2 separate regions of the Homo sapiens genome follow, and region 1 is linked to region 2. The links come from fine-mapping of genetic effects on gene expression. Tissue or cell type: whole blood. Region 2 holds a variant in brackets; the other region holds the start of a gene. All regions are shown on one strand. Distances are from middle to middle. Region 1 holds the start of PDZD8 (PDZ domain containing 8). Region 2 has its middle 21 kb from the start of PDZD8.

Region 1 (16,225 bases), 22 kb before region 2:
TTTATGCAGAAAATTTGTTTTCTGCAGAAATTTTCTGCAGGTTTCCAAAGGACAGGACCCTCAAAGACTTAAAAGTACTTTCAATGTACACATATATAGCTTCTTTTTTGGTAAACATTGTAACTGTTGAGGGGGGTGTATTTTTAGGGTTTTTTTTTAAAGTTTAGAGCAGGGATCAGTGAATCTTTTCTGTAAAAGGCCAGATAGTATTTGTGGGTACATAAGGTCTGTCACTACCACCACCACTACCACCACCACCACTGTCACCACCATTACCACCACCACCACCACCACCAGTACTTCTTTTAACAACGTCAAATATAAAGTTTAAGAATGTAAAAACCATTCTTAATGCAGGGGCCTAACAGCAGCTAGTTTGCAGACCCCTGATTTAGAGTAACAGTTGGTTTATCTCTGAAGAAATAATAGAGCATGAGCTCTGGAAGTCCAGGACCTTTTACATTTAGGACTTTATATCACTAATCCTCCGTAAATCGCATATTTCCACATCTGTAAAACTGAGATACCAACCTCTCCCACATAGGAGTTTTAACTATTGAGATTGCAACTGCATGGAAATGCCCACACAGTGCCTAATGAATACTTAGCAAACAGTGTTTTATTAGCCCCACCCTGCTCATATGATAGATTGTTAGTAATACTTGTAAGTCAACGTTTAGTATTTGATCAGGCATGCTCCTTCAACACAATCTACTTTATAATGATCTGCTTTGGCTATTTCCAGGAAGAAACTGTGGCTTTTTGGGATAGCCAATATACTTGTACATTACTGATTTGAATTTATAGCCTCCCGGCAGGGTGTGAATCACACCTGTAATCCCAGCATTTTGGGAGGCTGAGGCGGGGGGATCACTAGAATCCAGGAGTTGGAGACCAGCCTGGCCAACATGGTGAAACCCTGTCTGTACTAAATATGTGAAAATTAGCCGGGTGTGGTGGCATACGCCTACAATCTTAGCTACTTGGGAGGCTGAGGCAGGAGAACTGCTTGAACCCGGGAGGTGGAGGTTGCAGTGAGCCAATATAGCGCCACCGCACTCCAGCCTGGGCAAGAGTGAGACTCCGTCTCAAAACAAACAAACAAACAAACAAACAAAAATTATAGCCTCCTCAAAATGACTATTCTCCCCTCAATGAATAAATCAAATTTCTAGAGCAAAGATGTAATGTATCAATACATTATTCTCCATCTAAAGTGTTTTAAAAGCTGAAATTAAAATAATTCAAAGCAGCTGGAGGAAATCCAATGTGCAAGAAGTAAAATCAGCACTAAACTGGGTATTTAGGTGGAGTACACTTAGGTGTGCTAAGAAAGCTAATGTGGTGGCTCATGCCTGTAATCCCAGCACTTTGGGAGGCCGAGGCAGACAGAGCACCTGAAGTCAGAAGTTCAAGACCAGCCTGCCCAACATGGCAAAACCCCATCTCTACTAAAAATAAAAAAATTAGCTGGGCATTGTGGCACACGCCTGTGGGAGGCTGAGGCAGGAGAACTGCTTGAACCTGGGAGGCGGAGGTTGCAGTGAGCCGAGATCATGCACCTGCACTCCAGCCTGGGCAACGAGAGAGGAAAAAAAAAAAAGCTAAGGTCACAATGCATTACATACGGTACCACAGTAATCAGGTGTTTGCCTTAGCAGAGCAGAGATATTGATCTCTCCTGTTCCAGTTTCTCACAAAACTGAAGGGCTTAAATATTTCCAATGCCACTAAAATAAGCTTTATGTGTTCTTTGTTTTCCCTAGAAAGACTAACCCTATAATAGCATGAACTAGTTTATAACCATTTTTATCACGTTTACTATACCCACCGCAACACTAGGTAGTATGCACTAAGCACTTACTGAAGATAAATGACTATTTTTTAAATGACATAATTATTCATCTCTAAGACAATGATCTTGCAATTCAACTTATACAGAGATATGACGAGATATAGAGATATGAGCAACAGTACAAGAAAAAGCACAACAGGTTAAAAATTAGCTATTACAAGATTATTCCAGCATAGCTAGAGTAATGCACAATGCCATTGTCTATTCTCCCCAAATATTAAAGGTTAGATTTCCTATCAACATTAGTAAGTAAAACTGTCACTATTATAACCATCAAGGAATTTTAGTAGCTATTTTAAAATATTTTCCAATGTAATAGAAAGGAAAAAAGTATGAAAAAGTAAATAAATACAACATATTACACTTGACTTTACAAATGATTTTGTCAGTTTTCTGTGAATTTACTTTGAAAGATTTTGAGATACGGATCACTCAATTCATTAAATTCAAATATACTGTCAATAAGTTGATGCCCCCCTTTTTGGAGATCAGTGAAGTAAATGCTTACATAGTTATTAATGACCCATTCCACTAAAGCAAACTATCCACCAAACTCGAACAAAAAGGAGACACTATCTACTTACCATCACTACATGGTAGAAAAATGGATTGCATTTCAAGGCATTTTTTTTTTTCTGGCAGAGTGACTTTTTAAAATTCAACATTATATTGACAATGTTTTTTTTTTTTTTTTTTTTTTTTGAGACAGTCTCACTCTGTTGCCCAGACTGGAATACAGTGGCGCAATCTTGGCTCACTGCAACCTCCGCCTCCTGGGTTCAAGCAATTCTCATGCCTCAGCATCCCCAGCAGCTGGGACTGCAGGTGCGTGCCATTTTTAGTAGAAGCGGGGTTTCACCATGTTGGCCAGGCTGGTCTCGAACTCCTGACCTCAAGTGATCCACCCACCTTGGCCTCCCAAAGTGCTGAGATTACAGGCATCAGCCACCACGCCAGGCCTGACAATGTCTTTTATTTATTTATTTATTTATTTTTACTTTTTGAGATAGAGTCTTGCTCTGTTGCCCAGGCTGGAGTGCAGTGGTATGATCTCGGCTTGCAGCAATCTCTGCCTCTCGGGTTCAAGCGATTCTCCTGCCTCAGCCTCCTGAGTAACTGGAATTACAGGCATGTGCCACCATGCCCAGCTAATTTTTGTATTTTTAGTAAAGATGGGGTTTCGCCATGTTGACCAGGCTGGTCTCGAACTCCTGACCTCAAGTGATCCGCCTGCCTTGCCCTCCCAAAGTGCTGGGATTACAGGAGTGAGCCACCGCACCTGGCCAACAATGTCTTTTAAAAAATAAAATTGCTCTATGACAGTCCCTTCAAAAATGTAATTAAAAGAAGGATAAAAATGATCACTCTCCCTCTCCACTCCAGCTATTAAGTCTTCTCATTTTCACTAATCAGCAACAGTAATGCTCCCTATTTACTCCTCCAGTACGGGTCTCAAATTCATATAACTCCAAGCCAGGCAAGTACCATCAATTAAGCACAGCAAATAAGGGGGGACTATAAACTCCACCTAGGAGCTTACACACCGAGTTTCAACCCCAAAGCTGCTACTACAGTCCATCTCTCCATCCTGTTGTTGCTCTGAGAAATGCAGCACTGGCGCTACAAGATATTCCAATTTTTCCTAACAGAAGCCACAAATCCAAAACACACAGAATTTTCCATTTTTTAAACAGTGCAGGCCAAATTAAAAGTACCTGCAAACTGAATCTGCTTGTCTATATACAATAATACTCCAGGAACACAAGCATCCGTAAGAATCTCAAATATTTGACTCCTAAACCCTAAACAGAGCTCCCCACCCAGACACTATTACTCAGACTCCATGTTTAAGATGAATTATCCACGTAGTAAAAGAACATTAGTGGTAATCTTTCTCCCTTGAGGATGGATTCTGAGGTTCATTTAAAAAAATATATTGCTATTATAATATACTATTTTAATTAAAAAATCAAACCAATTAACATTGAGGTGGATGAATGAAATTCCTAACTTGAATAAATCTGTAAACATATTGTCTACATATTATAATTCATTTTGTAAAATAAAATGTTTTACAAACATTGTAAGTTTGTTAACTTGGGTAAAATGAAATGTCAGTCAGCTGGGTCCTTAGAAAGCAACCACTTGAGCAACTTAGCATCTCTAGGTGAAACATCAGGAACTGGCAGTCCAGAGAGGCTGATTCACTTTAGCAACACGAAAAAGGCAAAATAAATGAAGGGGGAAAGAAGTAATAACAACGTTAACTGGCAAGATATTTGTTATGTAATGATTACAAATGCCAAAGGATCGTAAGACTCCATACAATTCTCTTTACTGCTTTAGCTCTACTAAGAAGATTAGATAGCTAAAAAAGAATAAACTAGGCCGGGCACAGCGGCTCACACATGTAACCCCAGCACTTTGGGAGGCCGAGGTGGGTAGACTGCCTGAAGTCAGGAGTTCGAAACCAGCCTGGCCAACATGGTGAAACCTGTCTCTTCTATTTGGAAACACAATTCTGCTCAATTAAAAAAGAAATGCCACGTGGGACAGTACCCAAAGATTTAGCCTCATGATTTACTTTTAAAAGGATCCTCTAAAATGACCAATTTAAGAAAAAAAAATCAGCTTTATAGTCATACTCTTCTCAAGAGTTCTAGGTTAGTTTGGAAAGATATCCCACATATTTACTATATCGATGGCATGCTTTTAAAAAATAAATCACTTAAGAACAACATAGTTTGTGTGTGTGTGTGTGTGTGTGTGTGTGTGTGTGTTTAAAGGTGGCCTGGCCTTATCAGAGCTGCGTTTCAACACTTGAAAGCTGTGTGACTTTAAGCAAGTTATTTAACTACTCCGAGCTCCATTTCCTCATCTGTAAAAAAAGATGAACACTAGCTAGTTTAATTTTCCCTGTGAGAAGTATGCTATATCTTAGATGTATTGTAATTCATTCTTATCTGAAACTTGAATCAGTCCCACATCATCACCAGTTTGTTTATTTATTTATTTACTTATTTATTTTGGAGACGGAGTCTCACCCTGTCGCCCAGGCTGGAGTGCAGTGGTGCGATATCGGCTGGCTGCAACCTCTGCCTCCCAGGTACAAGCCATTTTCCTGCCTCAGCCTCCAGAGTAGCTGGGATTACAGGCGCCCGCCACCACGCCCAGCTAATTTTTGCATTTTTACTAGAGACGGGGTTTCATCAGGTTGGCCAGGCTGGTCTCACACTCCTGACCTTAAGTAATCCGCCTGTCTCAGCCTTACAAAGTGCTGGGATCACAGGCGTGAACCACTGCACCTGGCCCATCACCAGTTTAAAACACTGGACAGAACAGCTACACAGACAAGAAGTCATCACTTGCTGAGGCAGCCCTTTTCATCGTCATACTTGCTATTTTCTTCTACTAAGCTAAAACCGGCTTCCTGGCTACTTCAACCCCATCAATCCCATTCTAGTTTAAATCTTACAAAGCGCCGGGCAAGGTGGCTCACACCTGTAATCCCAGCACTTTGGGAGGCTGAGGTGGGAGGATCACTTGAATGAACCCAGGAGTTCCAGACTAGCCTGGGCAACAAAGCAAGACCTATCTCTACAAAAAAAATTTTTTTTTAATTAGCCAGGAGTGGTGGCACACACCTGTGGTCCTAACTACTTGGAAGGTTGAGATGGGAGGATTGCTTGAGCCCAGGAGGTCGAAGCTGCCGTGAGCCATGATCCTGACACTGTACTCCAGCTCTGGGCAACCGAACAAAATCCTGTCTCAACAAACAAACGAAAAACACAAAAAAATTACTAAGTATAGCTAATTCAATTCTCACTAGACTCTAAGCTTCCTGAGGGCTGAGTTCAAGTATTGTTCAGTACTGAAATCCCAGCATCTACAACAAGGATAAGCATATAGCAGGTGTACAATAAACATTTACAGATTGAGTGATATGCTCTGTGCAGCTGACTGAGCATTGAGATGCCATCCAGTATAAATAGCACAGATGTGCATACTTCTGGAAATGATCATTTAATGCTTCACATTTAGAAGTTGAAATATCATAACCAAATTCATGCTGTTTTTAAAAAAATCCCTTCAAAGTGAAAAGCAATTTTGCCATACTTTTAAATGGTTGTTATTCAATGATACAGATAATAGTTTTTCAAAGTAATAAACTTCTCAATGCCTCCATAACTTATTCATAACTTACTTCAGATTTACCTAAATTCCAAGTCTACATTAAAAAAAAAATCTCAAAATGATATGTAATCTCACTGTCATTGGCTAGTCTACAAATTTCAAAATAATAATCTAGTCAAATTGTATTAACTGAAAGCTATCAGAAAACATCATAATTGAAGTTGTGATAGAATACCAAAATTTCTAGCAACTTTTTCTCATGACTTTTTTGGCAACACACTGCTATAAATAAACATCTCTCACTGCTTAAACACTAGAACCGAGTTATAATTTAATCACTGATATTCCAGAGGTTAAAAGTAGGTTTCATAAAGTATGTTCTACTTCACAGAACCAGAAATCGAACACAGTGAACAACCAGTTCACCACCCTCCGCAAATCTATGGAAATATTTCCATTACAAAGTAAATTTCTCCTGCCACGCAAGTTTTAAACTGTCACTCTGCGCTGTTAGCCTAAACAAAACATAATTGGTAAGGTACATCTGCCACATACAGAAGTCAATAATCCATTCCAAACCCAAAATATTTCTGGATTATCTTGCTCCTGAAAATTGACACTGGTAGAAAATTAGTGATCCAGAAATAGGCAACTTCCACTAAAAGGCAAGTAAAATTAGGTAAGTAAAATACAAGACTGACATAATTTTATAATAAAGGGCAAAATTTTAAAGGCTCAAATGTCTTAGTGAATACAAAATTAAAGGAGGACCGAAAGAGAAGTTAAAAATTCAGCTTTTTACAAAAGAAAAAGCACCTTCCACTCCACCTCTAGCCCTAAAAAAGTCTTTCCCCTTCCACTCCTACAATATTAAAACAAAATTTATATACTACTCAAAACTGTATACCACAAAATTTAAGCCATCAGATGCTGGAAGGCTTAAACAAAATTAAAATCACTACCTAGCATTAAAATACAATTTGTACAGTGACTTCAGGTCCCTTGAGAGAAGAACTTACAGTCACAGAGAGTAAATGCTTGATGGGCAGAGTCTGGATCTGTGTTCTACAATCTACCCAAAATGGGCAAATGACATTAATACAAAATGTAAAGTACACTATGTACAGGCTCCCAACTCCTTTCCCATCTGCTGTGGAAAGTATTCCCGGGCCGGGCGCGGTGGTTCACTCCTGTAATCCTAACACTTTGGGAGGCCGAGGCAGGCGGATTACTTGAGGTCAGGAGTTCGAAACCAGCCTGGCCAATACGGTGAAACTCCGTCTCTACTAAAAAATACAAAAAAAAAAAAAAAAAAAAAAAAAATCAGCAAGGCGTGGTGCCATACGCCTGTAACCCCAGCTACCTGGGAGGCTGAGGCAGGAGAATCGCTCGAACCTGGGAGGCAGAGGTTGCAGTAAGCCGAGATCGCGCCACTGTACTCCAGCCTGGGCGACACAGCAAGACTCTGTCTCAAAAACAAAAACAAAAAAAACCCACAAAAGTATTCCTTTGCAAGAGTTACCACCTCTGCCTTGAAAGGTGTCAAACCATCAAAGCAAAAGTGGCTTGCAATGTCAAATTAGCACAGACCTGGGCTATAAGCACACTCTTCACGCGTGTACTGTGTCCAGGAACAATTTCTCAAAGCGGCCAAGGGGATGCTGCAAAGCCAGTGACGCGGCTGCCCTCAATGCAGCAACCACATAGAGGGAGAGTTTCTCAACAGTCCCAGAAGCGACTCCTGGGGATTAGGGTAGGCTTCCCTTCCATTTCCAATATGCTGCTTATAAAAGGAGACGATTCTGCCCGCGTTGACAGCACCCTGAGTCCCCATGAACACGCGAAAAGGTTTCTAGCTCCTATCAATGCCGTTCGGAAGCAAAGCAAGTGTTCACGACTCGCCTTGATCTGGGGCCCTGTCCAGGGTGGGAAGGCCCCAGAAGCAGGCGCCAGGACAGAAATGAGCCTTTGCCCTTCCCAATCCACGCAGCGTCCCGCCCAGGCCCGGGTTCCCGGCAGCCAGGCCCCCTCCCCGACCTCCAGCTCACCTGATCTTGTAATTCGGTAGGGTGTGCTTGCGCTTGATGATCTTCTTGAGCTGGTTGACGATGATGGAGGTGAGCTGGGGCATGGGCCGCCCTTCAAACTGGGAGCGCACCTCGAAGTCGATCAGCGGGTCTTCCACGAAGGAGAAGAACCAGTGGGTGAAGGGCACGCGCGTAAAGACCAAGCGCAGCCTTCCCACCACGCGGGACAGCTTGACAAACAAGTAGGCGGACTTGCCGAAGACCAGGTCCACGTCGATGGCCAGGTGGAAGCCCCCGTTGTACTCCACCTCCGCCTCGAAGGCCAGCTCCTCGGGGCAGGCGGCGGGCAGCGCCTCCCCTTCAGGGCCATCGGGCTCCCCGGTGGCCGAGGGCACGACTGGCCGCACGAGCCGGATGGTCTTGATGAAGGGCACCGTCTCGCCCAGGAACACGTCCCGCAGGCTCAGCCCCTCCAGCAGGCGCCCGGCCGTCTTGGTCTGCAGCAGCTCCTCGAACTCCACCTTGATCTTCTTGGTGACCCAGCGGCGGGTCAGCGCGGTGTCCCGCAACTCCCGGAACAGGAATAGGATGGTGGCGTTGAGGAAGTAGCAAGTCTCCCGCGTCGGCGGGGCGGGGGTCTCGGGGGCCGCGGTGGGGGTCGCGCCGCCCTCAGGGGCCGCTCCGGAGGGCTCCTCATCCCGGCCGCCGCCATAAAGGTACTCCCTTAGGAGCAGGCCCGGCACTGGCTTGATGTAGCGGAAGCCCTCGCCCGCGCGGGCGGCCTCGTCCGCCGGCGGCTCGGGCTGTCTGCGGTACAGCAGGAAGAACTGGGCGAGGAGCGTGAGGAAGGAACCCAGCACGGCCGACGCCAGGATCATGAGCAGCAGCCCCATCCCGCCACCGCCTCCGCCCGGGCCCCTACTCCCGCGCCCACAGCGCCGCTTTCTTCACGCCGCCGCCCCCGCTGCCTCCATTTTGAGGACATCGGGCGGCTGGGTCGGGGCGAGCGGCTCCGTGGGCCTCGTCCAGGGGCTCGGGCCGGCGCGCTGCGGCGCCCGAGCCCGCAGCGGCCCGCGCCTCCTCAGACGCTCCCGAAGGGCCGGTGTGGCGGCGGCGGCAGCGGGGCCGGGACCGGCGCCTCCCTCAGGCCTCCACTCATTGGACGAGCAGCGCGTGACGTCAGAGGCGTGCTCGCTCCCGGCGGCGTCGCCCAGCAGTCGGCGCCCGGGCACGCGGACGCGGGTCCTCCTTTACTTCTCTGCGGCCCTTCCAACCTCGTCCCCCCACGCCAACATTCCAATCCCCGCGGCGCGCGCCGCCACCCACGTGGCCGTCACTTCTGGAGCTGCGGTCGGGATCTGGGAGGACGGCTGGGGACGCGGGCTGGAGGATAAGGCGGTCCGGCGGAGCGGGCCTGACGCGTTCCGGATGCCGGCCATCCCGTTATCCTCGGCTGCGCCCATCCCCCGTCTCTGGCCGCAGTCCCCGCGGTTACCTCTGCAGCGGCGTCGCTCATCCTGCGGTGTGCTTCTTCCACTCGCACCCGTGACAGCCCGGCTGGCAGCGGCGCTTTCCCTGCGGGCAGCACCGCAGACGATCCGAGCGGGCCTTTCGGACGCTTCCCAAGCCCACGGCGAGAGGGGACCGACTGCCTCAGAGGCAGCCATCGCGGACCTGCCGTCCCCCCGGCAGACGCTCTGCGTCCGCGGAGGGTGGGCCCTGGGAAGGAGGGACGCAGGGAAAGGGCGCGCCACGCGGAATGACTTTCCCACCGAGGTGGATCTTCGAAATTTCAGGGAGGAGGAAGTTGAAAGAACAGCCAGGAGGAGAGATGCATAGTGAAACGAGTTTGCCAAGTGATTGGAAGATTAATATGCGACCCGCTGTCAGTCTCTGGTTAAGCCGGTAGTCCATCTATGAGGCAGTTATTCACTGTTAGCCCCCACCCACTTGACAGATGCCAACACTGGTGCAGAGAGCGTGGGGAGGTTGCGTGGGGCCGCAGAGTGGAGCCTGGTTTATCTAACACTAAACCCTAATGTCTTGATCACTACTCTCTGCCCTAACACAGAAACTGCTTCAGTTGTAAGCAGGCCAGTGGGTTCCCTAATGTTCAGGAAGGGAGAATTGGGGAGGCGGATTAGGGAAGACGGCAAGGAATTTTGCATAGAGTAGCACCTTAACCAAAGCCACGAAGCTAAGCCAGGTTGCCCAGCAACAGCGTTACTCCTCCTGCCCTCTGACTACTTAGTGGTTACATCATAAATGCTTATCCCTCCAAGCACGTGGAGTTCCAGTCCTGCAGGAGTCAGATATCCCATACCTTAAAGGCCGATTCTGGCTGTACCTAAGGAGCCAGGGCAGGGCTCCTCTCTAGCCCTTGAAAACCTTCAAGCCGGCCGGGCGTGGTGGCTCACGCCTGTAATCCCAGCACTTTGGGAGGCCGAGGCGGGCAGATCACGAGGTCAAGAGATCGAGACCAGCCTGGCCAACATGGTGAAACCCGTCTATACTAAAAATACAAAAATTAACCGGTCGTGGTGGTGCGCGCCTGTAGTCCCAGCTACTCAGGAGGCTGAGGCAGGAGAATCACTTGAACCCGGTAGGCGGGGGTTGCAGTGAGCCAAGATCACGCCATTGCACCCCAGCCTGGGCGACAGTGCAAGACCCTGTCTCAAAAAAAAAAGAAGAAAACCTCCAAGCCAAGGATTCTCTTAACTGTAGGTGATTCTACCACAAAAATAGACCTGACCCAGCTGGGACAGGTACAGAACTTCGGAACCAGGCTTATCATGCCTTACCGAATCATGCCCAGATACGAAACCAGAATGGCTTTCATTACTATGAAGACATAAGATAGGTGTCTGCTGAGGAACCATGCTCAAACCATGGCCGAGATTTTTCGGAGATCTTGGCAACTTCTGTTCTCTGGTCCCCTTTGGTTCCTGGCCTCTGCTTCTGGGCTGCTCTCTGGGATCTACACTGTTTCAACTCAAATGAGAAATGTAGACCCTTCTATGATTTCCACCGTAAACCTATTCATAACATTCATGCACATTGCATATTATAAATGTTACAGAAGCTGGAAGTAGGGTGGCATGAAAGAAGTTATTCACATTCCTGAAATATAAAACCCTCAAACTGTATATTGATCCATCCCGAGTTGCAAAATATTCTTCACCCACCTCCCTCCTCAACAATGAAAGTTTGTGGTCTTCATGGGAATGAGTCCTCAGTCTTCATCTTGCAGACTCCTTTCTTTTCTCTTCTCCTCTCACTTCTGCGCTCCTCAGAATACCTGTGAGAATCTTAAATCTTCTCAGTTTGTTTTACAGAGTCAGAGTCATTGCATTCCCCAGCAAAACTTGACCCCTTAGGGACACACTTCAAATCCATGAAAGAGCTCAGCAAACCTTTTGGGAAGAAAAAAGTATTCTCCCTTGTGTGAAACATGACCAACATTGATTAAACACTAATAATAATAATACAGAGAACTGACCATGTGCCAAGCACAGTGTTAAGCATGTTATTTAGAAATATTTAAATATTTCAAACATTATTTAGAAATCAAAATATCATGAGTTTTTGTAAAGTCAAATATGCAGTCATGCACCATAGAAGGATGTTCTTGTTAACGACAGACTGCCTATAGGATGGTGGCCCCATAGGATTATAGTACCGTATTTTTACTATGCCATTTCTGTGTTTAGAGATGTTTTGATACACAGATACCATTGTGTTATGGTTGCCTACAGTATTCAGTACAGCAACGTGCTGTATAGATTTGTAGCCTAGGAACAATAGGCTATACAATATGGCCCAGGTATGTAGTAGGGTTTCCCATCTAGGTTTGTGTAAGGACACTCTGATGTTCGCACAATGATGAAACTGCCTAAAGATTCACAACTTATGTCTGTTGTTAAGCCACACTTGACTGTGTTTGATAAGTTAGGAGATAATGCTCTGGATAATATTGGTGTTAGCATGCCCTTTATTTTATGAAATTATACTATGTTAATAGAGACGAATTTGTTTTAATGCTATTTTCTGGAAAAGGATAAATTCAGCAACCCCTCCCTTTTTTTCTTATATTAATGCTGGTTCATAGAAACTCAAAAGCCTGAGAACCACTGGCCCCAGCTCTGAAGATCGATGATTCTGAATAGGTTTTTAAAGGAAGCAGTTGTGCTTAGCCTCCCTGCTGACTTTTTAATGTGTTTTAAATGACATCATTGAAATTAAGCTGCCCCAACAGCCTTCATGGAAATATCCATTTCAAGGTCGAAGTCAGTTGAATACTGGAAGATGGGTTGCATATAAGACATTCTCACCAACTAGAGGGATGCATGGACCACTGCTTGACTATGAATCATTCCTGGTGACCGCGAAAAATAATGAGAAAGCCAAACCACGTAAATGTGCAAAGTTTGTGAGTAGCATGAAAGCAAATTTGATTTTTTGAAAGATGTAAAATAATGCAAATATAGTGAAATATGGTGGGAAACATAGAGTTTATAAGGTTTGCCTAACAAATGATACATCAACAAACCATTTTGTGAACTGGGAGAATTCAAATTCCACAACTATTTTTTGAGCATCCAACAAGTACTAGGCTCCAGGGATACTGAATGAACAGGGGCGCTGCGCCCCAGGTGGAAGCAGACACACATCTGCATAACTCTGATGATAGGAGATAGTGCTCTAATAGAGGCACATGCAAGGTACTATGGGAGCAGAGCCTTCTGGTTCAGGGGCAGTGACAATTGATTGCAAGGAACAGCAACTACCTCAGGCTAACTTACAACTAAAATTGGATTCACGTTAAGGATGCTGGAATATCTCCAGGAACTCAGCTGCAAGATGTTCATAGAAATCCTAGAGTAAGAAAACTGTCTCTCACTCTCATTTCCTCTGCCCCCACCCCTACCCAGTATCTTATTTCTGCATCTCCCTGCAGGTCTGTGCCATTTTACTCCAGAAGGCTCTTGGTTTCTACTTCCCCATTACCCTCAGCACACAGGCACTTTGGGAGGCACCAGCTCTCTATCCAGATCTAGAGGGTCCTATGTCTCTGATGGCTAAGGTAGCCTGCAAGCTCAATCTCAAATCCTGGGAGAGAAATCTCCAATTGGCTGTGCTACTCCAATAATTTATGACCAAGGAGCTTGCCTCTTCTGGGCTGCTGGTGGGTGGGGCAACTTCTTCAAGGACTGGGAGAGGATTGAGAAGACATGATGGGCAATACTAGCTCAATAGGGGATAAGAGATTAATTCTTGCTGGGGAAGGTGGGAGGCTTTTGGGGCAAATGGAATTTGCATTGGCATTTAATGATTAGAAGGGCATTCTAATCAGAAGGAGACAAAAACTCAGAAGATGGAAACCCGCCAGTTTGGGGAAATTGAGACCAGGATGACTGGAAGAAGGTAGTACGAATAGGTTGGTGCATCAAGGAGAGAAGGGAGATGGAGGTAGCATAATAAAGTAGACACAAACTAAATTATGGAGAGATTAAATGTCAGGGCAAGTTTTTATTCTATTTTGCAGTTTTTGTGAAGTCTTCAAAGGTCTTTAAGCTAGAGAATGGCATTAACACTTTTCCTTCCATCTCCACCTGCAAAACCTCAACCCTAAATGAATCCAACTATCTACCTCCTCCCCTCTACATTATAAATTTATGGTCTTCGTTCTTATTAAGGCCCTCAAGGAAACCCAGACATTTTTCTCCACTACCACATTTATCCATTTTTTCTCCATTACCAGCATCTTCTTCCATGTCCCATAACAATGCCATCAAACCTTGACCAGGCTCAGCTCTTTCATCATGCTCAGGGGAGGACCCTCCTCCCACTTCAGGGAGAAAAAAAGAGGCCCTTAGGCTGGGCTTTCCTCCGCTGCTTGCTTCCCTGGTCCAAGCTCACCTGCATGACACTCCCATGTTTTCATGCTTCTCTTCTGTGGCAAAAAACAACCAAAAAACAAAGCAAAAACTTTTTTGTCCAAGGGTAACCCTGATAATCCCCCTACTTGTGCCATGGATTCCACTCCCCTCCAGGGTCAATCTCCTCTCCCTCAACACATAAACCAGATTCACTCTCCACATCTTAAAAAATGAAAACGAAACAAATCCAGAGACCATCTTCCCTTAAGCCTTCCGACTTCCACTCTTTCTTGCCCACAGAGTCAAGCTGTTTAAAAAGAGTACCCAATTCTGTCTGATTGCTTACTTCCCTTCCATTTACTCCTTAACCCTCCATAATCTGACTTCTGCCTGAACACCTCCCCATCTTGCCAAAGGCCAGCGACTTCTATATGGCCACAACCAATAGATGTTTTTGGTTCTTATCAGAGTTCTGAGGAACATCTGACAATACGAGCCATTCCTTCTTTCTTGAAATCCTTCTACTCATTGACACCATGAAGAGTATCCAGTCAGGTCGAACTTTAAACACATTCTCCCCTTTTTGGTTGTTAGCAAGAGAAATTACCACTCTAAAGTTGCCTGCCACTTCTGTGTCTAGAGCTAGTGATGTGAAGTTGCCTTGGAGAAAATCTGTGAAGAAATCTCTGGGTATAGGGTGACCAACTGTTCCAGTTTGCCCCAGAATGAGAGGGTTTCTGGGAGCAAGACTTTCAATGCTAAAATTAGAAGTCCTAGGAAAACTAGGACAAGTTGGCCACCCTACCTGGGTGGTACCTTTAAGAGTGAAAAGAATAGGCAAGTTGCTTCTTACCCTTCTGGGGAAAGAAAGTAGGCCATGCTGGCCCATACCCTCATATGCATAAGAGCCAAGGGACCGCCTGGGATTAAGGAGATCAAGACCCTGACTCCTATCTTTTTGCTTTTTTGCTTTTTAAAATAACAGCTTTATTGATATATAATTCATATATACACCCATTTAAAGTGTACAGTTCAGTGGTTTTTAGTACATTTACAGAGTTGTGCACCCATTGCTACAATCAGTTTTAGAACATTTTCCCCACCTCAAAAGGAAACCTTATATGCATTAGAGTCATGCCCTTTTCCTTCCTCCAAACCCCCTCAGCCCTAGGCAGCTGAATTTACGTTCCATCTCCATGGATTTGCCTATTCTGACATTCCACGTAAATGGAATCATACGATATATCATATTCTGTGACTGTTCTTTCACTTAGCATAATGTTTTCAAGATTCATCTACGTTGTAACATGTATTAGTACCTCGTTTTTTATAACTGAATAATATTAAATTGTATGAATATAACACAATTTGTTTATTCATTAATTGGTGGACATATGGGTTCTCACTTTTTGGCTATTATGAATAATGTTGCTATGGACATTTGCTTACAAGATTTTGTGTGGACATATGTTTTCATTTCTCTTGGGTATATACCTAGGGATTAAATGCTGGATGCTATTGTAACAGTAATTCTTAAGTTTTAAGGAACTGTTAAACTATTTTCCCATAGTCTATGTGGGTTTTGTTGGTTTATGTGAGTTTATGTGGGTTTTGTAGTTTATGTGAGTTTTGTAGTCTTGTAGTTTATGTGGGTTTTGATTTTTCCACATCCTCACCAACAGTTGTTGGTATCTGTCTTTTTAATAATAGTCAGCCTAGTAGGTATAAAGTGGTATCCCATTATGGTTAATATTTGCATTTCCCTGATGGCTAATGATGTTGAGCATCTTTTCATGTGTTTATTAGCTGTTTGTATTTCTTTGGAGAAATGTTTATTTAAATCCTTTGCCTATTTTTTTTTTGAGGCAGGGTCTTGCTCTGTTGCCCAGGCTGGAGTGTAGTGGCGTGATCTTGACTTACTGCAGCCTCTGCCTCCTGGGCTCAAGCAGTTCTCCCATCTCAGCCTCCTGAGCAGCTGGGACCATAGGTGCATAACATTGTGCCCACTTTGCCTATTTTTTAATTGGGTTATTTATCTTCTTCTTTACAGAGTTGTAAGAGTTCTTTATATGTTTTAACTACAAATCCCTTATCAGATATATGATTTGCAAAATTTTTTTCCATTCTGTGGGTTTTCACTTTCTTGATGGTGTCCTTTGAAGCAAAAAGGTTTTTAATTGTGAGGACCAATAAAGCAGAAAGATTTTTAATTTTGATGACCAATTCATTATTATTATTATTTTGCTGCACTTTTGGTGTTGTATCTAAGAAACCATTGTCTAACTTAAGGTCATGAGGATTTATGCCTATGTTTTCTTCTAAGAACTTTA
Region 2 (16,225 bases):
GAGAGATGCTGTGGCCTCTCTCAAGCTACCCAGCAAGACAGTATCACAGCCCGGATCATAATCCTGGGGTCCTAACTCCTGGTGTCTCTTTTTCATCTTGTCCTCATACTTTTTCCATGCTCGCTTCACAAAATATTGGTTATTTTCTCTTTCTCAATGGAAGTGAAAAACTGACTCTAATAACACTTTCAGGAGAGTCTAACAATAGCTGTAAATTCTATCTGCTTTACACTTTAATACTGTTACTTACCAGTCTCAAAACTGCTTATCTTTCATTTGAGGCTGTTTGCTAATTTCCATTCTCCTTCACTACAATTCAGAACCTGAACTAAACCCTGGAGTTGTGAGGCTTCGCAGAAGGTCATTTTGATGGGTCCCCTTCCTGGGACAACAATAATCAAACCGTTTTTAGATAGCCGAGGCCTTAAATCAGCATTTATATTCCTCGTAAATTGTTGTGCAAGCCAGTCCACTTCTCTCCATCCCCTGAAATACCCCAGTCTGGGCCATTGTTATCTCTTGCTTTAATCCTGCCATTGCCTCCTAATTGGTCTACCTACCTTCGGCTTTCCTCGCCTTACTTTATTCTCTACTCTGCCCTCAGGACACATTAAGCTGATTCCTCCTTAAAGTTTTTCTACAGCTGCCCTTAGGCTTAAGGATGAAGTACTAGTTCCCAGTAACATCCTTCAGGCCTTTCACAATCCATCCCTTCACTTTCCCCTTTCCCCGTCACAGAGTTTGCTCCAGCCTGCCTGAGCTCTTGTGCTTCCTCCTGTGCTGACTTCTTTCTGGTATCTCCAGGCCTTTGCACATGCTGCTTCTTCCACCTGAAACTCTCTGCCTCTTCTCTTTGCAGGTAACCCTACCCTTAAAGTGTAGACTGAAATCTTCCTCTTTAGGAGACTCCCCTGGCCCTAACCAAGGCTTATCCCTTGCTATATCCTCATATAACATCCAATATATGTTCCCTCATCCTGGTGCTTATGGCAGAGACTGCTACTTGCTTCGTCCATATCCATTCACTCATTTCAAAGAAGAATTTGGGAACAGCAAATTGTTCAGATTTTAAAAATGACATTTCCCAACCAGCCTTGCAGATAAGAGTGGCCAATGAGATATAAGCAAAATTTTTGGGTGGGAGCTCAACAAAGGATTTTGATTTATTATCTCCATATCTCTTTTGTACTTCCCTCTCCCTCCCCTGGCCTGGAATTCAGATGTGATGGCTGGAACTTCAGTGGCCACTTTATAATCATGTGGTAACCTTGAGGATAGATGCCACACACTGAAGATGGTTGAGCAGAAAGACAGAATAAGCTCAGAACACTGATGACACTGAAGCTGAACTCAACTTTGCAATACCCACCTTGGAACTTTTTTTTTACATAAAAAAATTCCCCTTAAGCTGTCAAACTACTATTACAGGTCTCTGTTACTAGCAGCCAAATACACTCCTGACACAGTATTCACCACACTTTACTATCATCACTTGTACAATGTGTGTCTTGTAAACCACAGTTTCCCAGCACTCAGCACAGGGCCTCGCCCATAGTAAGTACTCAACTGGTATTTATTAAGTGAATGAATTTACATGACCTACTCTCCACTTTGGTGAGAAAGAGCCACCTTCTCCTGAAGCCCTAAGACCACTTGTTTGAAGGAAGAGGCTTTGTAGAGGGGAGCCAACACTGACACCAGAACGTCCTATCATGCTGGGAGAGGAGGGATCACTGCTGGCTCTGCTCCTCTGGCAAAGCCAGGGAAGGTAAGTAACTCTGGAAGAGAATAACATTGCTGCAGCAGCAACATGCTTGGAGATGGCAAGTCCTTGAGACTGCCAGTGGATCTAAATCTACTGTGTGGAGATCAGTGTAACTTTTGGGGCCCAAGAGCATATTCACCTCATCTCTACTTTCATTCAGTCCTTAGGTGATCTCATCCAGCCTCCTACCTTTAAATGCTATTCATATGTGTATGCTTCCAAATGCATTTACTCACTCTGAGCTCCTCTAGGAAACCCATATATCCAACAGCCTACCAGCCATCTCCACCTTGGTGTGAGATGACTTACTGTGTGTAAGACTGAGCGAATATCCATCCCATGAGAGTTCCTTGGGCATTTCCCGCCATATTTATCAATGGTACCTCTGTCATTCCAGTTGCTCAGGCCAAAAGCCTTGTGCTATCCTTGACTCCTTTCTCTCTTATCTGCATTCACACTTGCAACACATCCTATTGGTTTTACCCTCAAAATATATTCAGAGTTTCACCACTTCTCACCGCATTCACTATCATGGTTCAAGCACCATATTTGGCCTGATTATTGGAGTGGTCTCTTAGTTGGCCTCTCTACTTAAAGGTCTCTCTGGCCTTTGCTACCCTAATGTCTGTTTCAACACAGACACCACAGTGACCATGGTAAACCACAAGTCGGATCATGCCACTCAACTGTTTGAAACGTACCAGTGGTTTCTTGTGGGGGGGCCCAGAATAATGGCCCCCAAAGTTGTCCACATCCTAATCCCCAAAACCTGTGGATATATTACGTTACGTGGCAAAGGGGCGTTACTGTTGTGGGAGGAATTAAGGTTGCTAATCACCTGATCTTCAGATAAAGAGATTATTCTGAATTATCCAACTGGACCCAATGTAATCACAAAGGTCCTTAAAAGTGGAAGAGAGAGACAAAAGAGAAAGTCAGACTGATGCAATGGGAGAACGATTCAAACTGCCACTGCTGGCTTTGAAGATGGAAGGGAACTAAGAGTAAGGAATGCAGACAGCTCTAAGGGCTAGAAAGGCAAGAAAATGGATTATCCCCTAGAACTTCCAGAAAGTGAGGCAGCTCTGCCAACATCTTGATTTCAGTCCAGTCAGACCTGCTAGAGGTCTGACTTTAGACCTCCAGAATTATAAGATAATAAACTTGTTTGTTTTAAGCCACTAAGTTTGTGGTCATTTGTTATAGCAACTGCAAGAAACTAACACACTTCCCCATCTCATGCGATGTAAAAACCAAAGTCTTCATAGGGAAGTCCAAGGCTCCAAATGTCTGGGTCCCCGTTACCTCTGTCTGCAGTTGTGTCTCCGGCTTTCTGCTGCATTCACTCTGCACCACACCGCCCCTTGCCACACATCTTTGTAGAATGGATGAATGATTTTAAAACTTCACTTCCAGAGGACAGAGGAGAGGTGACTTGCCCAGGGTCCCCCAGCAGGGACTTGAACCCAGGACTCCAGCCCTGCCACAGTGGGTTACCATGTTTATTGTACTTAGCTTTCACTTCAGCCTCCTCCCCAAAAAGTCTGTGGTTAAATCTCCCCAGCCACCTACTGAAGTGCTTGAATTCCCTCCCAATGAGGAAATCCCTGTTGTAATCATATCATTCCTTGCCATAAGAGTAGCTCATTTCCTGCTGTATGAAATTCAGCATGGAAACATTTTCCCTGTAAATGGCAGGGGAAGAAATTCCCAGGGCATCAGATTGTACTGATCAATACAGGCAAATTCTTTAGGAGGAAAAGACAGTCCTGGCTTTCCTTCAGCCAAGGAGGTTTACTGGGTGGGTTCCTGTTTATACAGGAACAGGATGGAGAGTGAGCTACATAGAAACCTGGATGAGATTCTGAGTATTGCTGCCAACATCAAGCTCCACTTTTGCTGACTTATCATTTATATTTGCAAGTGAGAAGGTTTGATTGGTTAACTTGCTGCCACTCAGAGGAGGGCCCCCCGCTGGACCTTTGTGTGGAGTCACCTCAGAGCTGATCAGCCACCCTCGTGTCTGGCACATGTGTGTTGTAAGCTCTTCCCGAGACTGATCTCTGGTCTGGTCAGCTGTTGCCAGGACAGCGGAACTGGCTTCTCCTGTAAAGCTTGTGCATACCAGCCTGGCAGATACCACAGGCATGGGTTGCTTAGATTCTTTTGTCTGCCTAACTTTGCTTTTCTTTTCTTTTTTCTTCTCTTCTCTTTTCTTTTCCCCTTCCCTTCCCTTCCTTCCTTTCTTTTTTGAGATAGAGTCTCACTCTGTCACCCAGGCTGGAGTGCAGTGGCACGATCTTGGCCCACTGCAGCCTCCACCTCCTGGGTTCAAGCGATTCTCTTGCTTCAGTCTCCCGAGTAACCGGGACTACAGGCGGCCGCCACCAAGTTTTGCAATTTTTGGTAGAGATGGGGTTTCACCTTGTTGGCCAGACTGGTCTCAAACTCCTGACCTCAAGTGATCTGCCCGGCTCGGCCTCCCAACGTGCTGGGATTACAGGTGTGAGCCACCGCGCTGGGCCAACATTCCTTTCTTTTGAAAACTCCCCTCTTCCCTTCTAGGCTGTTCTGAAGTTCTCAATTCCAGGCCCACCCCTTGGCCTTAAGGATAGGCACATGTCCCAGGTCTGGCCAATTTATAGCACCTGATCCCTCTGACAACAATGATTGTTCTAGAGAAGGTGGGCATGTGACTGAGCAGGGCCACTCACAATCTAACCCCAAGATGAATGTACAGGCTTAGGGAAAGAGACACTCTCTTTCTGCTGGGGTGCCTAAACTGGGAGAACATGAACCTGAGGTCACTCAGTGGAGCATGTCTGTTTGTGCAGGAAGCCAAGCAGGATTAAGCAAAGATGAGAGGCAAATGGAGAGATGGTTCTCTATGCGGTGAGTTCCTGAGCCAAGGGCTATGGACTCTTTTTTCTGTTGCTCTTTTTTGGCTTCTCTGAGTCACCTACTGCCCTTCCCAGCTATGTGAACCAACACATTTTCTTCCTGCTGTATAGCTGGTTTATATTGTGCTTCTGTTATTTGCTCCCAATTGATTTTGACCAAAATAGGGGCTTAGGTAGGAAGAAACTGACTGTGACCACTTGCCACAGGCAAGAAAGACTTAGAACCCATTTATGAGGAGATTAATGCCACAATTCCCTTATAGGGATCTTTGGAAGGACTGGCCTGGCCTGGGATATCCTTACAATGTAAGTATATATTCAACTCCTGAATGTGCCTAATGAAATCTGATCCTGTTATTCCCTGTCTCCTTCAGTCTTAAAACACTCTGATGGTTTCCCGTAGCTGTTAAGACAAAGATCACAATCATCAATGGGCCTGCAAGGTCTGACCTCCACCATCTGGTTCAGAGGTCTGAAAACTTTTTATTAAAAAAAAAAAATCTACTTTTTTTTTTCTTTTATCTTCTTTTTAAATTTTTTTTGAGACAGGATCTCATTCTGTTGCTCAGGTTTGGAGTGCAGTGGCGTGATCACAGCTCGCTGCAGCCTCGACCTCCCAGGCTCAAGTCATCCTCCCATCTCAGCCTCCTGAGTAGCTGGGACTACAGGCTCATGCCAACAAGCCCAGTTAATTTTTTTTTATTTTTAATTTTTCAGGAGAGATGAAGTCTCTCTATATTGCCCAGGCTGGTCTCAAACTCCTGAGCTCAAATGATCTTCCCACCTTGGCCTCGCAAAGTGCTAGGATTGCAGGTGTGAAACACTGCCCCTGGCTGCAAACTTTTTCTATAAAAGGCAGACAATACATTTTCTAGACAGCATTCTGAATTTCTTCCCACCTTTGTGGGTCATAATGTCTCTGTTGCAACTACTCAGCTCTATCATTGTAGCTGAATTCAGCCCATGGGCCATAATTTGTTGACCCCTGGTCAGGAATGGTCGGAACCTTTCATCCAAACACACATCCAGCCTCACTGGCCTTCTCTCAGAATCTTCGTATTCCCACCCATAGGCTCCCTCTCCTCATGGGGCCTCTATCCAAGCTATTTTCTCAGCTTGGCTATTCTCCCAAATCTGTGTATGGTTAACCTTACTTACCACCTGGATCCAATGACAGGTTTCCAGGGAAGTCTTCCCTGACACTCTGAGACTGGGCCAGATTCCCCTAGCACATACACACCTTCCTAGCATTCTCCATCTCTCCTGTATGGCATTCACCATGGTTGTAATTTTTAGGATTTTCATGTTGGTTTGCCCTCTGTCTTCCTACTACGTAGGGAACCCCATAATGATGAGGCACTGTCTTTTTTTTATTACCTAGCAGAGTGCTTAGTACATAATAGGAGCTCAATATATATGTGATTGAAGAAAGAAAGAGAGGGAGAAAAGAAAACAGGGAGAGAAAGAAGGAGAAAGAAAGATGGAGGGAGGGATAAAGAAGGAAAGAAGGAATCAGCCCTTTGAATTTACCTGTTCAATGACTGAGAATGAGAATTCAAAGTAATAAAAGTAAATGGAATATTTTTCTTACTCATCCATTGCTGAAATCAGAAGAACATGAAGAATTGGTAAAAACTGGCACTTCTCCCTACCCATTCAGACACTTGGTAGCTTTTGGTGCTTGGGTGACATCAGATCTCTAGTCAGACTGGAATCAGGAGGCCTTCTCCTTGCCACTCTTCCTCCCAGCACCTGGACCCTCCCAGTTGCGATCATGTGTCCAAGTTCCCCACAGGGATGCCCATCAAGGTCACCTCTCTCAAAGTGCCTTTTCCCAAAGTTACTCAGGCCTCCTGGGATCAAATCCCAGCTCCAGGACTTAGGGGTTGTGTGACCACGAGCCAGTCATGGAAACTCTCCAGGTTTCTGGTTCCTCTCCATAAAGTGGGGATACCATTAAAAAATGGGCAAAGGATATGAACTGACACTTCTCCAAAGAAGAGATACATGTAACCAATAAGCATATTAAAAATGCTCAACATCACCAATCATTAGAGAAATGCAAATCAAAACCACAGTGAGATACCATCTCATACCCGTCAGAATGGCAATTACTAAAAAGTCAAAAAAATAACAGATGCTGGTGAGGTTGTAGAGAAAAGGAAACGTTTATACACTGCTGATGGGAATGAAAATTAGTTCAGCCATTGTGGAAAGCAGTTTGGCGATTTCTCAAAGAACTTAGAACTACCATTCAACTCAGCAATCCCATTATTGGGTGTGTACCCAAAGGGATAGAAATTGTTCTACCACAAAGGCACAGGCATATGTATGTTCATCACAACACTATTCACAATGGCAAAGACATGGAATCAACCTAAATGCCCATCAATGGTAGTAGACTGGATAAAGAAAATGTGGTACATATATGCCATGGAATACTACATAGTCATAAAATAGATTAAGATCATGGAGCTGGAGGTCATTATCCTATGCGAATTAGTGCAGGAACAGAAAACCAAATACCATATGTACTCACATGTGGGAGATAAACTATCACAAGTGGGAGATAAAGATTGAGTACACATGGACACAATGAAGGTAACAATAGACAACACAGCCTACTTGAGGGTGGAGGGTGGGAGCAAGGTGAGGATAAAAAAACTACCTATGCTTATTCCCTGGGCAATATGCTACCTGGGTGATGAAATAATCTGTACACCAAACCCCTGTGACATGCAATTTACCTGTATAACAAACCTGCACATATACCCCAGAACCTAAAATAAAAGCTAAAAATAAATAAATAAATAAAGTGGGAATAATGACATAGGGTTATTGGGAGGATTTAATGGCATAATATGTAGAAAGTACTTAACACAGGGCCTGGCACATATTTAGTGTCAATAAGTTAGCTATTATTAGTTAAATTTTTAAAAAACTCTATCTGATCATCTGATTATAGCAGTCAGGCTCATCTTCAACATATGTGGGGCCAGGGCTAGAGTACAAATGGTCTAAATATTTAAAATTATAACTAAGTGGC[A/G]TGCGTTGTAGTCCCAGCTATTTGGGAGACTGAGGCAGGAGGATTGCTTGAGCTAAGGAGCTTGAGGCCAGCCTTGGCAACATAGGAACCCTATCTCTATTAAAACAACAACAACAACAACAAAAATTAGCTGGGCCTGTTGGCTCATGCCTGTAGTTTTAGTTACTTGGGACACTGAAGTAGGAGGATTGCTTGGGCCCAGAAGTTTGAGGCTGCTATGATTGCACACCACTGCACTGCAGCCTGGGTAACAGTGAGACTCTGTCTCTAAAAAAAAAAATTAAAAAAAATAATAATAACAAAATAGAAAATTATAAATCAAGCTGCAAAATACATTTTTTCTCCCCCTACATTGACAAATACGACTTCATAATGGAAATTTTCTTTTTAAGTTGGAAAACTATAGTTTTTATCTGACTGAAAGTCTACAAAATATCAAGAATAACTGAATTCAGGTATTACTGTGTACGTGCTATTGATGGCCCAGAAATATTTGAATGAGTGATAAAATAAAGACATATATCATGAGTCATTACATATTTCATAAATTTTTTTTCTTTCACAGCAAGAAAAAAACTAATTATCTAATTGCAATTAAAGTATGCAAATAATTTACATTCCATTGATATGATCCAAAAGATTAAAACATAAAATTATATTCAAAAAGTATCAAATTTTAATATATTTCCATCAAAAATGTAAAATGAAAGTAAATGTAATAGTTAAAGTTGAATATTTTTGAAAAAAATTTTTAAAGCATGAAAAATATTTACATTAAAAGGCAAAGTAGAGGGTCGGGCATGGTGGCTCATGCCTGTAATCCTAGCACTTTGGGAGGCTGAGGTGGGCGAATCTCAAGAGATTGAGACCATTCTGGCCAACATGGCGAAACCCTGCCACTACTAAAAATACAAAAATTAGCTGGGCGTGGTGGCGTGTGCCTGTAGTTGCAGCTACTCAGGAGCCTGAGGCAGGAGAATCACTTGAACCCAGGAGGCGGAGGTTGCAGTGAGCCAAGATCGTGCCACTGCATTCCAGCCTGGCTACAGAGTGAGACTCCATTTCCAAAAAAAAAAAAAGGGTTAGGCGAGGTGGCTCATGCCTGTAATCCCAGCACTTTGGGAGGCTGAGGCGGGCGATGGTTCACCTGATGTCAAGAGTCCAAAACCAGCCTGGCCAGCATGGTGAAACCCTGGCTCTACTAAAAATACAAAAATTAGCCAGGCATGGTGGCAGGTGCCTGTAATCCCAGCTAATTGGGAAGCTGAGGCAGGAGAATCTCTTGAACCCAGGAGGCGGAAGTTGCAGTGAGCCGAGATCGTGAGATTGCACTTCAGCCTGAGCAACAGAGCGAGACTCCGTCTCAAAAAAAAAAAAAAAAAAAAAAAAGGCAAAGTAGAAATTATAAATTAATGAGTGTAAAAATTATAGATGAAATTATTTCAGTAAAGTTACATTTTTTGTTTAAAATTTTAACAGTGGAGTTAAATCATAATAAATACTTTTACAAAAATAAACTATTCAGTATTCTAGCATTCACCGTTTTAACTTAGTTGCCAATACAAATAATCAGTACTACATGCACTTATTTCATGCCTAAAATTACAAATCATATCTTCAAGATGTCAATCATGACATTGGGTTATGGATAGTTGATACGTGATGGTTCTACTACAGCCTAACCACATGGTGACATTTTATTATGTGATTCGTGTAATTCATGAAGAGTTTAGGAACCACAAATGAAAGAAATAAAATGAAAAGAAAAGCTCAGCATGACAGGGAATGATACTATGCGAAACAAAAATCTGTTTTATTCATGCTCTCTGGGAGGAAGAAATTGACAAGTTAATTAATTTGCTTTTTCTCTTCCTAATGGTCCCTACCACTAAAATGCTCTCTGCCCTCTGAAGCTGTGTCCATCTCTGATGTTGGCAGCAGCAACCCAAAAACCTTTATGACCTTCAGGACAGGTAGCCTTTGTTTTGAGGATAAAAGGTAAGAAATATGGAAAAGTGTTCCCTAGGGCTTGAGCAGCGTTGGTGCCAGGAGCAGATGTTTAGGATTAGGGGTAGTGATATGCCAGTGCTGAGCACCAGGTCCCATGTGACAAAGGAACACACATGTTCTTTAAGAAGTGTGTATGTGTGTGTATTAGTCTGTTCTCATGCTTCTATAAGGAACTACCAAGAGGTCTAATTGACTCACAGTTCTGCAGGCTGTACAGGAAGCATGGCTGGAAGGCCTCAGGAACTTACCATCATAGCGGAAGGTGAAGCGGAAACAAGCATGTGTTACCATGGCCTAGCAGGAGACAGAAAGAATAAAGGGGAAGCGCTACACACTTTTAAAGCAACAAGATCTCATGAGAACTCATATACTATCATGAGAACAGCAAGGGGGAAGTCTGCCCCCATGATCCAATCACCTCCCACCAGACCCCTCCTCCAACATGTGGGGATTACAATTTGGCCTGCGATTTGGGTGGGGACACAGAGCCAAACCATATCAGTGTGTGTGTGATATTATGGGGTCACCCTTCTCTTTCCCAGGTCTGAGGGCAATATGGAAAGGAATACCCTGGATAATTGACTGATTGATAGGTCATCTGGGGTATTTGCATTGCAAATAAGCACTTCTGCGTAGTCCCCAAAGAAGCCCTGGGATGAAGGGGGCCTTAGAAGGTGGTTTTGAACTGAGAGACTTCTTGCCTACATTGGCCCTTTCTGCCCGCCACACATCAGAAGAATGAGGTTCAGCAGCTGGGCATCTCATTCTGAGCCTGCACTCTGTACACTTTTGCTAAGGAAAAGTAGAGTCACATTGGTTAAGAAAATACATAGCAATCAAGTGTCTTAATTCTTTTTTTTTTTTGAGATGGAGTTTTGCTCTTGTTGCCTAGGCTGGAATGCAATGGCGTGATCTCGGCTCACCGCAATCTCTGCTTCCCGGGTTCAAGCAATTCTCCTGCCTCAGCCTCCCATGTAGCTGGGATTACAGGCGCACGGCACCATGCCCAGCTGATTTAGTATTTTTAGTAGAGATGGGGTTTCTCGATGTTAGCCAGGCTGGTCTCGAACTCCCAATTTCAGGTGATCTGCCCGCCTTGGCCTCCCAAAGTGCTGGGATTACAGGTGTGAGCCACCATGCCTGGCCTAAGTGTCTTAATTCTTAATTACCTAATAGCAGAGTTTCAGGAGAGTACTTTGACAAATAACTTAATAATAAACATATCAGAATGAAACAACTAATAGAAAAGGATAAGATCCTGATCTTCAGAAAATGCCAACACTTTTGTTTTTCTAAGTCATGAAAGAAATCATCAAGATATACTGCTCATAAAATGTCTACACATAAAGGTACCATTTATGAGCACAATACAACAGCCTAAGCCCTCCGATAAAAACTGAAGGAAGTGTAGAATTCTCATTTTATAGAGAAGGAAATGGAGGCACAGAGAGGCTAACTGGCTTGCACACGGTCATACAGCTGCTAAGTGGCAGGGGCAGTATTCCAAGCCAGCCACGTCCAGATTGTGACTGTGTAACCACCATGGCATACCAGCCCTTTGCTCTCTTCCACCATACATCCAAAGGAATCAGATAGTCAACATTAGCAAAGAAAAATTCCGTGGGACCCCTAGCTGACCATCTTTCTTCTGTGCACCCTTCAGTTTCCCCCAAAAGACAAATAAGTCTTTTTAGCACCATGTAAACATTTAATAAGCGTGTGTTAAATTTTCAGTTACAAAGTGTAAAGCAACATTTGCAGGCCTACCTTTCCTGTTGGGTAAAAACCTGACCACTGAACCATGGACTACCTCTTCCCTCTAATTGCAAAATGTTGACTTACTTCATCTTTTGAAGACCAATGATCTTTGCAAGGTTACTGTATGTTTAAAAAAAAAAGTGCCTTCAGGGCCTTGAGTCATAAGATGGGAAAACATGTTGAAGTGTTACAAAAATATTGACAGTATCTCTATGATTTTTCAGTATCTTTATGATTAATGAGATTTTAGGGCTGGACATGGTGGCTCACACCTGTAATCCTAGCACTTTGGGAGGCCAAGGTGGGCAGATTGCCTGAGCTCAGGAGTTAGAGACCAGTATCCTGGGCAACATGATGAAACACTGCCTCTACTGAAATACACACACAAAAAAAAAAAAAAAAAAAAAAAATTAGCCGGGAGTGGTGATGTGTATCTGTAGTCCCAGCTACTGGGGAGGCTGAGGCATGAGAATTGCTTGAACCCAGGAGGTGGAGGTTTCAGTGAGCCGAGATCACACCACTGCACTCCAGCCTGGGCAACACAGCAAGCAACTGTCTCCAAACAAAACAAAACAAAAAACCAAGATTAATGAGATTTTAAATAGCTTTACTGAGATATTTTTCACATACCTTAAAATTCACCCATTTAAAGTGTACAGTTCATTAGTTTTTAATATATTCAGAGTCGTGTCACCATTACTACAATCTAACTTTAGAACATTTTCAACGCCCTAAAGAGAAACCCATATCCATCAGCAATCACGCCCTATTTCTTCCCAACCCAGCAACCACAAATCACCTTCTGTCTCTAAGGATTTACTTAATTTGAATATTTCATGTGAAAGGAGTCAAACAATATATGGTCTTTTGTTACTGGCTTCTTGCACTTTGCATAATGTTTCAAGGTTCATCTGGTTGTAGCAGTTATCAGTACTTGATTTTTCTTATGGTCAAATAATATTCCATTATATGGATATATAATTTGTTTATGCTTTCATCTGTTAAGTGTTTAGGTTGCTTCAACTTTTTGTCTATTATGAATAATACTGCTATGAATATTTGTGTACAATTTTTAGTGTGGATGTAGGTTTTCATTTCTCTTGGGTATATACCAAGAAGTATAAACCCTGGATCATATGACTTTATGATAGCTCTATGTTTAACCTTTTGAGAAACTGCTAAACTTTTTTTCAAAGTAGCTGTACCATTTTACTTTCCCACCAGAGAGTATGAGGATTCCAATTTCTCCATTTGTTTGCCATCACTTGTCTTGATTTTAACCATCCTAATGGATGTGAGGTAGTATTCGATTGTGGTTTTGATGTGTATTTCCTTAAAGTCTAATGATGCTTTTCTTTGGATAAACGTGTTTTCAAATCTTTTGCTCATTTTTAAATTGGGCTATTTATCTTTTTATTACTAAGTTGCACGGGTTCCTTATAAATTCTAGGTACAATTTCTTTCTCAGATATATGTTTGCAAATATTTTCTCCAATTTTGTAAGTTTTCATTTCCTACTTTGATAGTGTTCTTTGAGGCATAAATGTTTTATTTATTTATTTATTTATTTTTATGACATAGGGTCTCACTCTGTTGCCCAGGCTGGAATGAAGTGGCATGATCATAGCTCACTGTAGCCTTGACCTCCCAGGCTCAAGTGATGCTCCCACCTCAGCCTCCCAAGTAGCTGGGACTACAGGTGTGTGCCACCGTGCCCAGCTAATGTTTTGTATTTTTGTGGAGATGGGATTTCACCATGTTGCCCAGACTGGTCTCAAACTCCTGGGCTCAAGTTATCTGCCTGCCTTGGCCTCACAAAGTACTGGGATTACAGGTGTGAACCACTGCGTCTGGCCAATGTTTTTAATCTTGATAAATTCAAATTTATCTATTTTTTTTTCTTCTGTTGCTTGTGCTTTTGGTGTCATACCTAAGAAGCCATTACCTAACCCCAGGTGACCAAAGATTTTCTTCTGTTTTCTTCTAGGAATTTTATAGTTTTAACTCATACATTTAGATCTGTAACACATTTCAAATTAATTTTTGTGTATGGTGTGAGAGAGGGGTTCAACTTTATTCTTTTGCATGTGGGTGTTCAGTTGTCCCAGAACCATTTGTTGAAAAGACTGCTTTTCTTTATTGAATTGTCTTGGTATCATTTCAAAAATCAATTGGCCATAAATGTGAGGTTTTGTTTCTGAACTTTCAATTCTATTCTGTTGATCTCTACGTTCATACTTCTAGCAGTACCATGCTTTTTTTTTTTTTTTTGAGATAGAGTATGGCTCTGTCACCCAGGGTGGAGTGCAGTGGCATGATCTCAGCTCACTGCAACCTTTGCCTCCCGGGTTCAAGCAATTCTCCTGTCTCAGCCTCACAAGTAGCTGGGATTACAGATATATGCCACCACACCTGGCTAATTTTTGTATTTTTTAGTAGAGACAGGGTTTCACCATATTAGTCAAGCTGGTCTCAAACTCCTGACCTCAGGTGAACCATCTGCCTTGGCCTCGCAAAGTGCTGGGATTACAGGCATGAGCCACCACGCCCAGCCCCTTCTTTATTATTGAATATGTTCTGTCCTCTCCCCAGGCATTCTGAACATCGCTTCCTTTGGACCTCACTGTTCTCAGTACATATTCCTACCCTTGCCTCTGTCACTCTACCATTTCCTTAAATTTGCTAATATGCCTGTCACTCCAACTAGATTGTGCTCCTTGAGGGCAAGGACTATAATCTTACCTGTCTCTATAACTCCAGGTCCAGGAATTCAAAGTGTGTTAAGTGAATGAATTGGATACATTTGGTATATATGAACTCCTGTGGGTAGAAGAGCACACTCTTGGGAGGCTGAGGCAGGAGGATTGCTTCTTTCACTCAGGAAGCAGAGGTTGAAGTGAGCCAAGATGGTACTACGGCACTACAGCCTGGATGACAGAGAAAAACCCTTCACAAAACAGAACAAAGAAAAAAACAAAACAAGAAAAAGGAGAACACACTCAAATTTTACAACTGTTAACCCTGCAAGGCACATCTGCGGGCGTGTTTTTCTTTTACAAACTGAGGAGGAGCTTTGGTCATTATTGGATTTGTGGATAGGTATTGGTTTATTAACAGTCTTGTTGGGCTTTATACATACCTACTTAAAATAAGTTTATTTCAGGACCTGAATTTTCTCAAATGCTTGAATGCATTGATTAAATAAACCCATGACTGTCAAAACTCCTCTTTTCCTGCAACTCTATGGAAATTGACCTAGACTCTCATTCAACCCCCAGCAAATTTTGTTCTCATTTGTGCAAAAGCCACTTTTCTCGAACCACACTTGGGCTCTTTATATCCTCTGATACCTTTGGATGAATAGGTGGAAGATGCTCGTGTGTTTCAGATGTTTTTACCCTTACTGTCTCACTTCCTGGCTCAGACCAAAATATCTCTGGACTGAAGACAGACCAAGAGCTGACCTAAGAACATCGATCCTGCCCATTTTGGACTACATGGCTTTTTATAGTCATCTCCATCAGCATGAGCATAATTAAGAGCATCCCTAGACTGAAGAGTGTTTTGTTCTTTCCACAAAATTGCTTAGCTGGACAGAACTTTTTTCTTCCATGTTCTTCAATTGCCTCAAAAGATTATGGGGGTGGGGTTGGGGGGTGGATCCCTTTCTTAAGAGGAGGAGCAAGACTGTCTTTTTGACCGAGGATGATTTCTCACTATAACATTTAATATGCAATTCACTGATTCTAATGAACAAAACTGACATATATTTCCAATGTAATATGAAGATTAGGAATCATCTACTTGAAACTACTTTACACATCTCTATTTTGCAAAGGACCCTTCATATCACTTTTAACCACAAAGCCACTGCAGAAGGCCTTGCGTGCCCTCCCCTGCCTCCGCACCCTTGTTTCAGAGTCCAGAGGTCATATGCAAAGCATTTCGTTTGTGAAATCAAGAATTCTCTTCCCCTCTACTTTAGATATAAACTTTTTTTTTTTTTTTTTTTTTTTGAGACAGAGTCTTTCTCTGTTGCTCAGGCTGGAGTGAAGTGGCACCATCTCTACTCTCTGCAACCTCTGCCTTCCAGGTTCAAGTGATTCCCCTGCCTCAGCCTCCTGAGTAGCTGGGATTACAGGCACCTGCCACCATGCCTGGCTAATTTTTGTATTTTTAGTAGAGGCAGGGTTTCACCATGTTGCCCAGGCTGGCCTCGAGCTCCTGACCTCAGGTGATCTGCCTGCCTCAGCCTCCCAAAGTGCTGGGATTACAGGCATGAGTCACCACACCCAGTCCTACTTTAGTCATAAACTTTTTGTATTAAAGCATCCCTAACTGGGCTGGGCATGGTGGCTCATGCCTGTAATCCCAGCACTTTGGGAGGCTGAAGCGGGTGGATCATGAGGTCAGGAGATCCAGACCATCCTGGCTAACATGGCGAAACCCCATCTCTACTAAAACTACAAAAAAAGTTAGCCGGGCATGGTGGCTGGCGCCTGTAGTTCCAGCTACTCGGAAGGCTGAGACAGGAGAATGGTGTGAACCCGGGAGGTGGAGCTTGCAGTGAGCCAAGATCGCGCCACTGCACTCCAGCCTGGGTGACAGAGCGAGACTCCATCTCAAAAAAAAAAAAGCATCCCTAACTGCTCATTCTGCTGTCAAAATCGATGCGGGGTCAAAACAGAAAAATTTCAGAAGAGAATTTAGAGCTACAGCCTGTGAGAAACAGCAAAAAGTGAAAAC

Evidence for each region. PIP is the estimated chance that this variant, and not a neighbour inherited with it, causes the effect.
Region 1: it holds the start of PDZD8, and the variant in region 2 is fine-mapped to the expression of PDZD8 in whole blood (INTERVAL, PIP above 0.99).

The regions. Positions count from the first base shown.
Region 1 is chr10:117,366,319-117,382,543 of GRCh38, forward strand. It overlaps PDZD8 (PDZ domain containing 8), which reads right to left and starts at 9,122. Exons shown (of 5, transcript NM_173791.5): 1 at 8,038-9,122. The coding sequence starts at 8,909. RefSeq lists silencers at 8,613-8,792, 8,893-9,212 and an enhancer at 9,443-9,562.
Region 2 is chr10:117,388,272-117,404,496 of GRCh38, forward strand. No RefSeq gene overlaps it. Among named protein-coding and RNA genes, the nearest start is that of PDZD8, 21 kb to the left of the region's middle. The variant A/G (reference allele first, on the strand shown) is at 7,712.